Linked DNA regions of Homo sapiens: regions 2, 3 and 4 are each linked to region 1. Evidence: fine-mapped expression QTL. A gene starts in region 1. Each other region holds a variant in brackets. All regions are shown on one strand. Distances are between the middles of the regions. Region 1 holds the start of CCDC141 (coiled-coil domain containing 141). Region 2 overlaps CCDC141 (coiled-coil domain containing 141). Region 3 overlaps CCDC141 (coiled-coil domain containing 141). Region 4 has its middle 11 kb from the start of SESTD1.

The links. PIP is the estimated chance that this variant, and not a neighbour inherited with it, causes the effect.
Region 2: its variant is fine-mapped to the expression of CCDC141 in whole blood (TOPMed, PIP 0.99).
Region 3: its variant is fine-mapped to the expression of CCDC141 in skeletal muscle (GTEx, PIP above 0.99).
Region 4: its variant is fine-mapped to the expression of CCDC141 in caudate (GTEx, PIP 0.98).

The regions. Positions count from the first base shown.
Region 1 is chr2:179,049,037-179,051,726 of GRCh38, reverse strand. CCDC141 (coiled-coil domain containing 141) reads left to right here and starts at 1,590. Exons shown (of 24, transcript NM_173648.4): 1 at 1,590-1,887. The coding sequence starts at 1,786. RefSeq lists enhancers at 1,514-1,593, 1,604-1,853, 2,044-2,093.
Region 2 is chr2:178,833,022-178,835,711 of GRCh38, reverse strand. CCDC141 (coiled-coil domain containing 141) reads left to right here. Exons shown (of 24, transcript NM_173648.4): 24 at 1,272-2,690. The coding sequence ends at 1,539. Among named protein-coding and RNA genes, the nearest start is that of TTN, 27 kb to the right of the region's middle. The variant A/G (reference allele first, on the strand shown) is at 1,580.
Region 3 is chr2:178,857,439-178,860,128 of GRCh38, reverse strand. The region is part of intron 17 of CCDC141 (coiled-coil domain containing 141); the gene reads left to right. Among named protein-coding and RNA genes, the nearest start is that of TTN, 51 kb to the right of the region's middle. The variant A/GGTA (reference allele first, on the strand shown) is at 1,686.
Region 4 is chr2:179,274,219-179,276,908 of GRCh38, reverse strand. No RefSeq gene overlaps it. Among named protein-coding and RNA genes, the nearest start is that of SESTD1, 11 kb to the right of the region's middle. RefSeq lists an enhancer at 1,963-2,012. The variant T/C (reference allele first, on the strand shown) is at 1,685.

The DNA of each region.
Region 1 (2,690 bases):
AATCCCATAAAACGGCCCCACCCCTATCTCCTTTCGCTGACTCTCTTCTCAGACTCAGCCCACCTGCACCCAGGTGAAATAAACAGCTTTATTGCTCACACAAAGCCTGTTTGGTGGTCTCTTCACACAGATGCAAGTGAAAGAAGGAGCCTGCCTGCAACCTTCCAGGTCAGTTACCTCTTTGCAAGCTCTCCAGCCCTGCCATAAAATGAAACCATTTGCAATAGTTGCTACATCATAGCTTGCTCGGCATCTGCTTTCCTGAGCTCGCTCCAATTGTTCCCTTCATGGGGTCAGGTGAAGTTCGTGTTGCATAGGGACTAGGATCTAGGTATGGTTTCCATCTCACTGGGGCAGCAGGCAGATGCTGAGCGCAGAGGACATGGGTGGTGGCTACACAGCTGCAGAGCAGCCATGACATGCTCTTGGAAACAAAAATAATTGAACACTGAAGTATGTGTAAAAGTACTTTTCCCCTTTGAATCAAGAATATGATCATGAACCTTAGCAAAACAAAGCAATGGAGCTGACTCAGTCTTCTAAACATTGGCCCTGAACCTGAACCTACTATTAAATTGGGCTAAAAGGTTTACAGAGCAAGTGGATTCATTAAAACTGTTTTTTGCTATATTCTCTGTTGTGGCTTTGTCCCAGAGATTTCCAATGCTTCCAGCAGCTTTGGAGTTAGTAACTCTGATATGTTTGCATCTGACTTCTGACCTAAACTTTAGTGTTATTTTCAGCTGTTCTTTGACAGGGAATCCAACAGCTGCTGTTTAATACCACAGACAACTTGTGACACAGGCTGAGTTTCTAGCAATAGGATTAATCTACCAATGTGGGGCACTGATTTGAAGCTGGCTATAATTTTCCTGAACAGGAGGTGGGGGTAGGGAATAAAAAGCCTGAAGCACAGTACTTTCCTTTTTGTTTTTGTTTTTAATTGCAGCAAAATATATGTCTTAATAACTTTTAACCACACAGAAAACATTTTCTTGCTGCAATTAAAAGGTAACAGCAAAGTATTTTGCTTTCTCATGGTATTAATAACTGAACTTGAAAACCTTGTCCAATGGAGCAGAATAGTCACAAAGAAAATCTGAAATGATAGGCACCTATTTATAAATGCTGGTTGAAATATTTTTTAAAAATTCCTAAGAAATCTGAGGCTCTGAGAAAATGTGGCTATTCCATCTAAACTTCATTTAGCAAAGAACAGTAAGTTTTAGAAAAGCAGATTAATCTAAAAATGTGTTTTAAGCAATTTGTGACTTAACCCCAAGACAAATACCAAAACTTTTTTAAAGTACACTTTGGTAGTTCTCTTTGCATCAGAGAGATTTCAAAAATCTTGAAAAGATTGATAACCAGGTCAAAGACTTACTTGTTTCAAAGTCCATGGTTACAATGGCATAGTTTCGGTGGCAAAACTAATTTGGGTTGTCAGGATGTAATTTTTTTTTCCATTTGTTATCAAACATCAGCTGATAAGGAAAGAGCTTGAAGCTGTCCTCCACATTTAAGATAACAGCAAAAATAACAGGCACTTAGTGTCACCATACTAGGGGCGTGGCAATTCTCTCTCGTTCGCTCCTTTCTCTCTCACGATAAACTCAATGGGGTTGTCTATTTTTAACCTCCTGTTCTTTCCTTTTGGCAGAGTAATCAGTGTGAGCTGAGCTCTTTCCCTGAATGAATCCAAGTAACCCTGGCCTTCTGAAATGACCAGCAGACACACAACTGTCCAGAGGCTGCCCAAAGTATAAACTCTGGTTCTAAAGTACCATGTCCAGCCAAGGAAGTCCTAGTGTTGCGCTTTCTACGACGACAGTCAGTTCAGTTGCTGTGCAGGCTGGGGACTCCAAAATCGTTATAGCTGTCATAAAGGTAAGCTAACAACTTCCTTTTTTCTGTGCGGCTGTGGGCTTCTAGCTGTGTGTTGAAAACCCTAAAGAACATTCCATGCAATCGGCAGGACACAGCATAGAGAAGACAACGCAGCAAGCACTCTTACTGCTTTCTAAAATGGGCTACTAAGAGAAACCTCTACAAGTTTCAGCAGTTACCAGAGATTCTCTTTCCTTTCAGTCAGCCAGAAAGCATCTATAGCAGCTTGATTTAAAAAAAAAAAAAAAAAGAAAAGAAAGAAAAATAAAGAAAAGAAAACCTCTAGCATATACTGTCAATTTGGTCTTTAAAAGCAAGGCATTGGTAACTGGAAGTTCATGATTGCCTGACTAAAGAGTCCAATGGACCTGTGGAATGCTTGTGATTTTTGAGAGTGGATGTGATGGAGGTGGGAGGAGGCAGGTCCCGACAGACAGGGGGAGGGCACTGCTTTAAGCACGATGGAACTCAGAAAACACCAAGTAAAGGGCTCCGACATGTGCCCTTTGCCACACTGGTTTTGACATGGTAAAGAAACTACTAAATCCTTGTCCAGTAACGAAGACCATGCAAGGAAAGGTACAAAAGCTTTGTGTCAAATTTGCTCTTAACAGCAGGAAGTAGAAGCCACTTAGGGTTTACAATTACTGCATGTTTTATGACAACCCATTTGCCCATTTGCAAAGATGACCACACATCTTTAGGCTGAAGAAGAACTCCATGATTTTATTCTCCATGGAAATGCCCTGTAAAAAAAAGCTTTCAAGCACTAGGCTTGGGCTTTAGATGATATTCCACCTAAA
Region 2 (2,690 bases), 220 kb after region 1:
AATAATTTGGTTAGTATGTGTGTGGTTAAAGAAGCACTGCTACATACGTGTCGTTGAAGAATATTGCAATGTTGTAAACAAATGTTTTGTCGTCAGATTTACAACTGTGCTCAATTAATAACTGACAAGCTTTCAGGATATCATACATTCTTAGGATACCCAAGAAAAGGCAAAGTTATCACTTAGGCAATGGGAACAGAAAACGATTCACATTTGTCATCACCCCTGAGTGATAGATTGTGGGTAGAAATAAATAAACAAGAATCTCAGACATACAAAATAAAATTATTTCTTTATAAAACCATGCAGTTAAGCACTCATGTTCATAGGAACCTTCTAGAAATATGTTATTAATAGTCATAATACAGTTGCATAAATACCTTTTATAATTAGAAGTCATTTTCTTCTAATGAAATTGCTTCAAAAAAATTAAATGAAGTGATCTCATCAGGAGGTGATATTAAGTACAGTCCTCTAAAACAGCACATCTGTATTGTCCTGTGGATACTGTGGTATGAATATGATGGGGTAGATGAGTCTCACTCCCATGCAGTTTATAAGGAGTCACAGCTGCTGTTCCAGAGTGGCAAAAAGAATAAAGCTGGACAACATGAGGGTGCCATTTCACACCCTAGGTAATTGTTACTATGAGCAAATGGTGGCCTAGTGTGACCAAATGGTCTGCTTTGTTTTTGTTTTTGTTTTTAGGGGTAGCTGGATATCTGAATTTTCATATGCAATATTCCAATTTTTAAAGGATTTCAAAAAATTCAGTTTTCCAAAAACATTGTCTGAGCCAGTCAAAGCAATTCTCTCGCCACCAGTTGCCAACTTCTGCTTGAAAGATAAACAGCGCATAATACCAGCTACTCAGGAGGCTGAGGCAGGCAGATTGCTTGAAACCAGGAGTTCAAGACCAGCCTGGGTAACATAGCGAGATCCTATCTCTTAAAAAAAATAAAAAATAAAAAACTTAGCCTGCACATGGTGGTAAGCGCCTGTAGTCCCAGCTACTTGAGAGCCTGAGGTGGGAGGATTGCTTGATCCCAGGAGTTTGAGACCGCAATGATCTCTGATTCTGCTACTGCAATCTAGCCTACTAAAGAAAAAAAGATAAAGAGCCCCACTGGAATTTGTTGTGGCTACAAGGTTCCTACTAATCCTAAGAGAATATTGCAGTGGTAATGGGCCTATTTGCAAGCATTATTAGAACTTGGAAATAATGTGAATAAACAGCAATCCTGACTTTAAAAACTGCCTCTCTGCTTCAGGTACAAGAAGGGCCAGAAATTGTCTGCAGATGGGCACTTACAGGTTTTACACAAGGAGACAAGGCATTCGGTGTTCATTCCAAAGGTATGCAAGGCAGACGCAGGCCTCTATGTGGCTCGGGCCCAAAACTCTAGCGGCGCTCTCTCTTCCAATGTCATCCTCCACGTGACAGGTAACTGCAGGCTGCCAATCACAAGAGTAAACTGGATAACCCTGTGTGTCGTCTATGTTAGTGTGTCCCTAATGTACTGGCTCCTCACACAATAACTGTGGTGTTGGCACCAATGGACATCATTCTCATGTGCCT[A/G]AAGAAAAGTGCCGCCGTTTATCTTCCTGCACCTCCTGCAAAGCATCTCCCACCAAGTGTATCTCCAGTCTGATCACCATACTTGTTTGGCTAATACCACTGCTAGGTGAAATAATCAAATTTTCTGGAGCGTTTAATATATTTGAGAAGCTTGGTAAATTATCTGTAGTGGATAAGAACAGATTTTTGTACTCTAGAAACAGATGTTTTCAACATAATATGCAGCAAAATTATTCTATGCCTATTCCCTCCTAATTTAAGGGCGTGCAGATGAAGGCTGACATCGGCATAGAAATGTGCTAAATTTCAAATATGGTTGTTCAATAATATATTTTTAATTGTATTTTAAAACATCCCTTTGTAGGGAATATCAGTAGAACTATTGAATTGATGTTGTATTTTTGCATTAGCTGTCCTTTAATTTTGCTTTCCATGTCTTGATCTTGTTACCGAAATGCATTCTGTGTAATTTCAACGTAGACTACGTTCCTGAGTCTGATGATGTCATTGTAAATAATCATTCCTCATGTTGCTCTCACGGGTTTGACATTGGAGGATAGATGTGCCATCAACTTTAAATAGAGTTTCCATCTTTTGTCAGCTCTGCATGTCATACAGCAAGATGGAACACAGGTTGCAAGAAAGAACCAACGTTATTCCTGACATTCTATTGATGTGTTTTGAGCAGCAATGTGTAACCAGGTGTTTCTGCTTCTAATCTTGATTCTGCTGATGACCATTTTTATACTTTATGGCAAAGCCTCATTGCCTCAGTTTCCTGTCTGGAAAATGAGTTCATCATCTACCTCTTGGGCAATTGAGAGTTTTCATTTTGTGTCTTTTAAACATCTGGAAAATGGAAAACACTGAGGGCTAAGGATAATGATATTGTTTAATGTAATTTGTCATCAGACCGGCCTCCTGCTCACTATTTCTTTTTTTTTAGATGCTGTTTTTTTAGAATATTAAATTAAAGGAGTGCTGTTAATATGTAATCTTCAACTAGTTCCATGGAGGAAAGTGATGTTTTATGAATTAGAGCTTAAATTCCTATCTAATTTCTGAAGACTGCATTCTTTTCAAAGACTTGAAATTAAACTCAGGAGGATAC
Region 3 (2,690 bases), 190 kb after region 1:
GGCAAGAAATGACATTCATGAAGTGGACATTGTGGAGATTGACCAGTCATTTTATATTTTTGCTTCTGGCCAAACATGTGCCATAGTTCTAAGGAAAGGCTTTCTTTTTAAATGCATTAAATGCATTTCTGTTTTAAATATCCCATGTCCCTCACACAAATTGGCCTTGACAGCAGCAAACTTATAAATAATACATTCTTATGCCAAAGCTGGCTCAACCAGCTTCGTCAAGACTAACAATAGCAAGCCAGCCTCACTTGGCATCAGCCTCTTTCCCTTCTGCTTCTTTCCAAAGAAGCTTTGTTTATTCCTAACCCTGAGAAGGGGCTTACGGCATGCTGGAAAATTTGGCAAAGATGCTCATTCTGCTAATTTCAAAATAGCTATAGTTTTTAAATCTTAATAACTTATTTCTAATTATAGCTATGTTAACTCAGTCTGTTTATTCTATGGTAAATATAGAAGAGCTGAACATGTGAAAAGATGGGAAAATAAAATTATTCATTAAAAATATATTTTCCCTAATTTTCTGAAGACTTTGAGGAACTTTAATATGAATTATAACACCATTTCAAGATTTCTAACAGGGTAAACTTTTTCTCACCCCAAGCTTGGGGTGTTTTTCTCCACTTATGTGCTCAACTTGAGCAGTTGTCTCAGCCCCATCCCGCCATTCCCCATTGTTGACAAGTTGACTAAAGTTAGAAACAGCTGTGTGAACAGTGATACCACAGCCCAGCGACTATGGCACTCAGTTCCTTTAAAAATATGACCACAAGTTATGTGGGGATTAGATGGGAAGTTAAGTTTTCATATTGGAAAGTGCAGGTAAGAAAATTAAGAATGGCAAGATTTTTCAATCGCTGAAGGTAGTTTCATGCATACTGCCTTCCACTTGTATCTGCAGTAGTCCTGAATTTGAGTTGAAAAAGGCACAGAGATTTAGTTTTAAAATGGATTTCCAGTGAAACCAAAAGAGAAAAGTGCCAGCAACTTTGTCAAGGGAGCTCATGTGTCAGAAAGAACTTGATCCCATTTCACATACTCATAGTGTCATGAACATTCTTTGACCTTATAAATCATCTTCAGTGGAAGTGCACACGTTCTGAAGCAAACAGAAATCAAATCACACTCATCATTTATCAGTCTTAAATTTCTTAATCCAAAGTAGATTTAAAATCTCATGGTTGAGAATTAAAGTATTAAATCTCAGCCTTTCTCTATCATATAGGTTTCAAATAGACATTGAACTTTCCCATTTAAAGCAGATGTAATCCAATGGTTATCAGGTTAATGACAGAGCCCCTCTTCCTTTCTCTAGACTAAGGTTTTCTGATATATGTCACATTTCAGTAGAGAAAAATATATGACTATATTTTATATATTCTTATATATAAGTAGAAGAATATATAAGTTTATTTTCCAATGGATAAGTGTTAGTGACAGGGCATTTTTTCCCTTTATTTTTAATTGTGGTAAAATGCACATAGCATGAAATTTACCAGCTTAACTGTTTTAAGTGTATAGTTTAGTGGTATTAAGTACATTCACATTGTTGTGAACCCATCACTACCATCCATCTGCAGAACTTTTTTATCAACCTAAACAGAAACTCTGCACTCATTAAATAGTAACTCATTATTGAGATGTTTTTTAAAACAATAATGTCTGGTTTCCTCAGATGT[A/GGTA]CTTATTATATATGTAGTTGCAAAAACTCCTGCCAAAATTTTATGTAAATTACTAAGGATATAACGCCTTTATATCTCAATCTTATAAAATTGACATTATTTATCCTTTCCTGTTAAAACCAAACATACGCACATTAAAACATTGAGTGCCGTAGAATGTAAATACTTACTAGTTATTTCACAAATATATCAACTGAATATGATCTTTTAAATATTCCCCTGAGTTTCTAATAGAGAAATAATGTTCAAATTCTGAAGCTTTTCACTTTTTCTGAACATTACTGATTTATTTATCAGTTAAAGTGGTTCATGCGGTCTCTATGCTTGGTTTAGTTTGTAACTTAAAGTAATGTTCAACAACTTTATTTACCATATAAACTAAACAACACTGATTAAGTATATGTGTATCAGATGCAAAAATTCTATCAGTATAATAATTTCCGTTCGCAATTCCACTAGGGCTTTAAAGTTGATGTCTCTAAGATGTGTTACAGATAAGATAAAGGCTTTATTTTCACAGTCTGCAGAATTTGAAATAAGCATTTTGAGAAAGCATGCATTTTGTAGGGCAAGTATATTTTTCTGCATTACAATTCTATAATCTAGCACATGCACAGTCTTTATTCCCTCCCAAATAATTTGTTTGCTATCATTGAAAAGAATTTTAATGCTTTTCTGACTTCTCTTATCTTAGCTCAAATTTATCAACCATGACATTGTTCACTCTTGCTGTTAAATGCCTCCATATAATCTGAGAAGGTGTTTTTTTCTCTGTACTTCTCTTTGGTGATAATACAAAGAGAGAGTTGCCTGTCGATATGCTTATCCTTCTTAAATATAGAGAAGGGACAGAAAGTGGTGCATTTAATGGAACTGCACTGCTTAGAAATTTGGTGCACTGGTAAAGTTGAACTGTTGTTAAGACTGTCAAAATCTATCCCCTATGTATAGCTATATGCTTTATTTATACACAAGTTAGCATAGCCGTCATTAGCAACAACTCTC
Region 4 (2,690 bases), 230 kb before region 1:
AAATCCTTCCACACAGAATCCTTCATTTCAAGGCAGTCAGTTCCCTTCTGGCCCAGGATGTATCTAGAAATGTCATCTGGGAGCTAAGGCCTGGAACAGGAGCCTCACAACTCTGACTGGTGCCCTATTCTGCTCTGGCTGAGCTGCTACCCAAAGGGTAAGACAAAGTCCTCCCTACTTTTCTGTCTTCTCTCCTCAAGCAGAAAGAAGAGGTCTCTTTAGAAGCCACAAGCTGTGCAACCTGGGGTTAAGGGAGGGGTGATGCTCGCATTCCCTTAGCTGTCCCAGATGATGTCCCAGTAGCTTGCGTGGCCCCCAACCCTCTGCCCCACCCAGTTCACTGGCTCTGGCCCAGTTAAGCACTAGGGCTGTCCTAGGTGTTGCAGTCCTTGTGGCTTACACTGTCTTTCAAGTTTATCTGAAGCACCAGAGCACTTTAGCCTGCAGTGGTAAGCCTTGCAGGAACTCAAGTTCCGACTGCCAGCATTAGTGAATCTACTCTGGCTAGAGCTATTTTAAATGCACCCTCCATGGGCGGATGTCAGCTGAGTTTGGCCTGGTTTTGCTGCTACAGTAAGGGCAACACTGAGTTCAATGCCTCATAGATGCTGGCTCTCCCTCTCCCTAGTGCATAGAAATGTCCTCTGCACCACGCCACTGCTGCCCGGGGGATGGGGGAGGGGTGGCATCAGTGATTCAAAACTGTTTTTCTTACCTCTTCAGTGCCTCTTTCTGCAATATGAAGTTAAAATCAGGTACTATCAGTGCTCACCTAATTTTTGGTTCTTATGAAGGTTTTTTTTGTGTGTAGATAGTTCTTAAATGGGTATCCTTGTAGCAGGAAGATTGGTGGAGGCTTCTATTCCACCATCTTGTTCCACCCTTCCTTTATGTGATAAGTATTTTCATGTGTCAACTTGGCTGGGCCATATTGTCCAAATATTTGGACAAACACTTTTTGGATGTTTCTGTGAGCATGGTTTGGTATGAGATTTACACTTACAACAGTCAATTTTGAGGAAAGCAGATTGCCCTCTGTAACATGGGCGGGCCTCATCCAATCAATTGAAGGCCTCAATAGAACAAAAGACTGTCCTTCCTTGAGCAAGAAGGAATTGTGTAGCAGATGACCTTTGGACTTGAATTACATCATGAGCTCTTCCTGGATATCTAGCCTGTCCACCTACCCTATAGATTTTGGACTTGCTAGCCTCCATAATTGCATGAGCTAATTTCCTTAAAAAAAAGTCTCTATACACACATCCTATTGGTTCTATTTCAGAAAAAGTCTGACTGAAACAGTTGCCCTATTAGTCGCATTTGACCGAGTTGTTCATTCCCTCGTCCTTTGAAAACTTTATTTGCTTGGTTTCCAGGATAACACACTGTCCTGGTTTTTCTCCAACCTCACTGGCTGTTTCTCCTCAGTCTCCTTTGCTGATTCCTCCTCATTTTCCCTGCTTCTAAATGTTAGAGTACTCCAGAGCTGAGTCATTAGACCTCTTCTCTATTCTAGTTAATCTCACCAAGTCTCATGGTTTTAACATTATATATACACTGCTACACCAACACATTCCAAATGTATATTTATAGTCCAGACCTCCTTCTTTAACTCCAGGCTCATCTGTCCAGCTGCTTATTCTAAATGTGTGCTTACTGTCTGATAGGCATCCCAAAGTTAACA[T/C]TTTCAAAGCCAAATTATTGAGCTCTGCCTCTTTCCCAAACTGTTCCTCCTCATAATCTTCTCCATAGTAAATATAATATTATCATTCTAATAACTCAGGCCAAACACCTCAGAGTTATCCCTGGATTTCTGTTTTAGTGACACCTCCCATCCAATCTGTCCGGAAATGCTGGTGCTCTATCTTTAACATATAACCAGAATCTAACCACTTCCTACTACCCTTGCTGCCACCACACTGGGCCAAGCCACCATCATGTCTGCCCTGTGTAGTAGCTCTCACCTTGCAGCTGGTCTCTGTACTTCCACCCTTCCCCCAAGGGATTCATTCTGGTTGCACGCAGCAGCCAGAGTGAGTCTTTAAAAATACAAACCCCACTTATCACTCCTCTGCTCAAAAGTTTTTCAACTTGCTCAGAGCTGAAGCCTTAGTCCTTACAATTCCCTAAAAGGCTCTATACAATCTCTCTTCCCTCCTCCCATTCCCTTTTCCCCCTTGCCCTGGCAGATATGACCTCACCTCAGGTCCTTTCATATGCTGTTTCCTCTGCTTGAAATGTTCTTCCTACAGATGAACATTCCCATAGTTCCCTCCCCTCACCTTCTCCAGTCTTTGTTCAGTGGCTACCTTCCTGGTGAGACCTTCCAGGTCATCCAATCTAAAACCCAAACTATCTCCCATTCCTTATTACTTCTCCCTCCTTAATTTTTCTCCATAACATTTCTTTGACAAATGCACATTTTACTTCTTTTTCTGTCTCCTCTCTCATTACAATGTAAGTTCCATAAGATAGGAATTTTTGTTTTATTTGCTGTAGCATCCTCAATTCCCAATATAATACTTTAACATAAAAGGCACTCAATAAATGTTTGTTGAATGAATGAATGAAAAAAAAAACTGTAAATACTCATTTTTGGAAAGAGTATGGGGAAAAAGACAATCTCTCACATTGTGGGGGAAAATATAATTTATGCACTATTTTTAGAGGTTTTTGTGTCCTACAGTGAG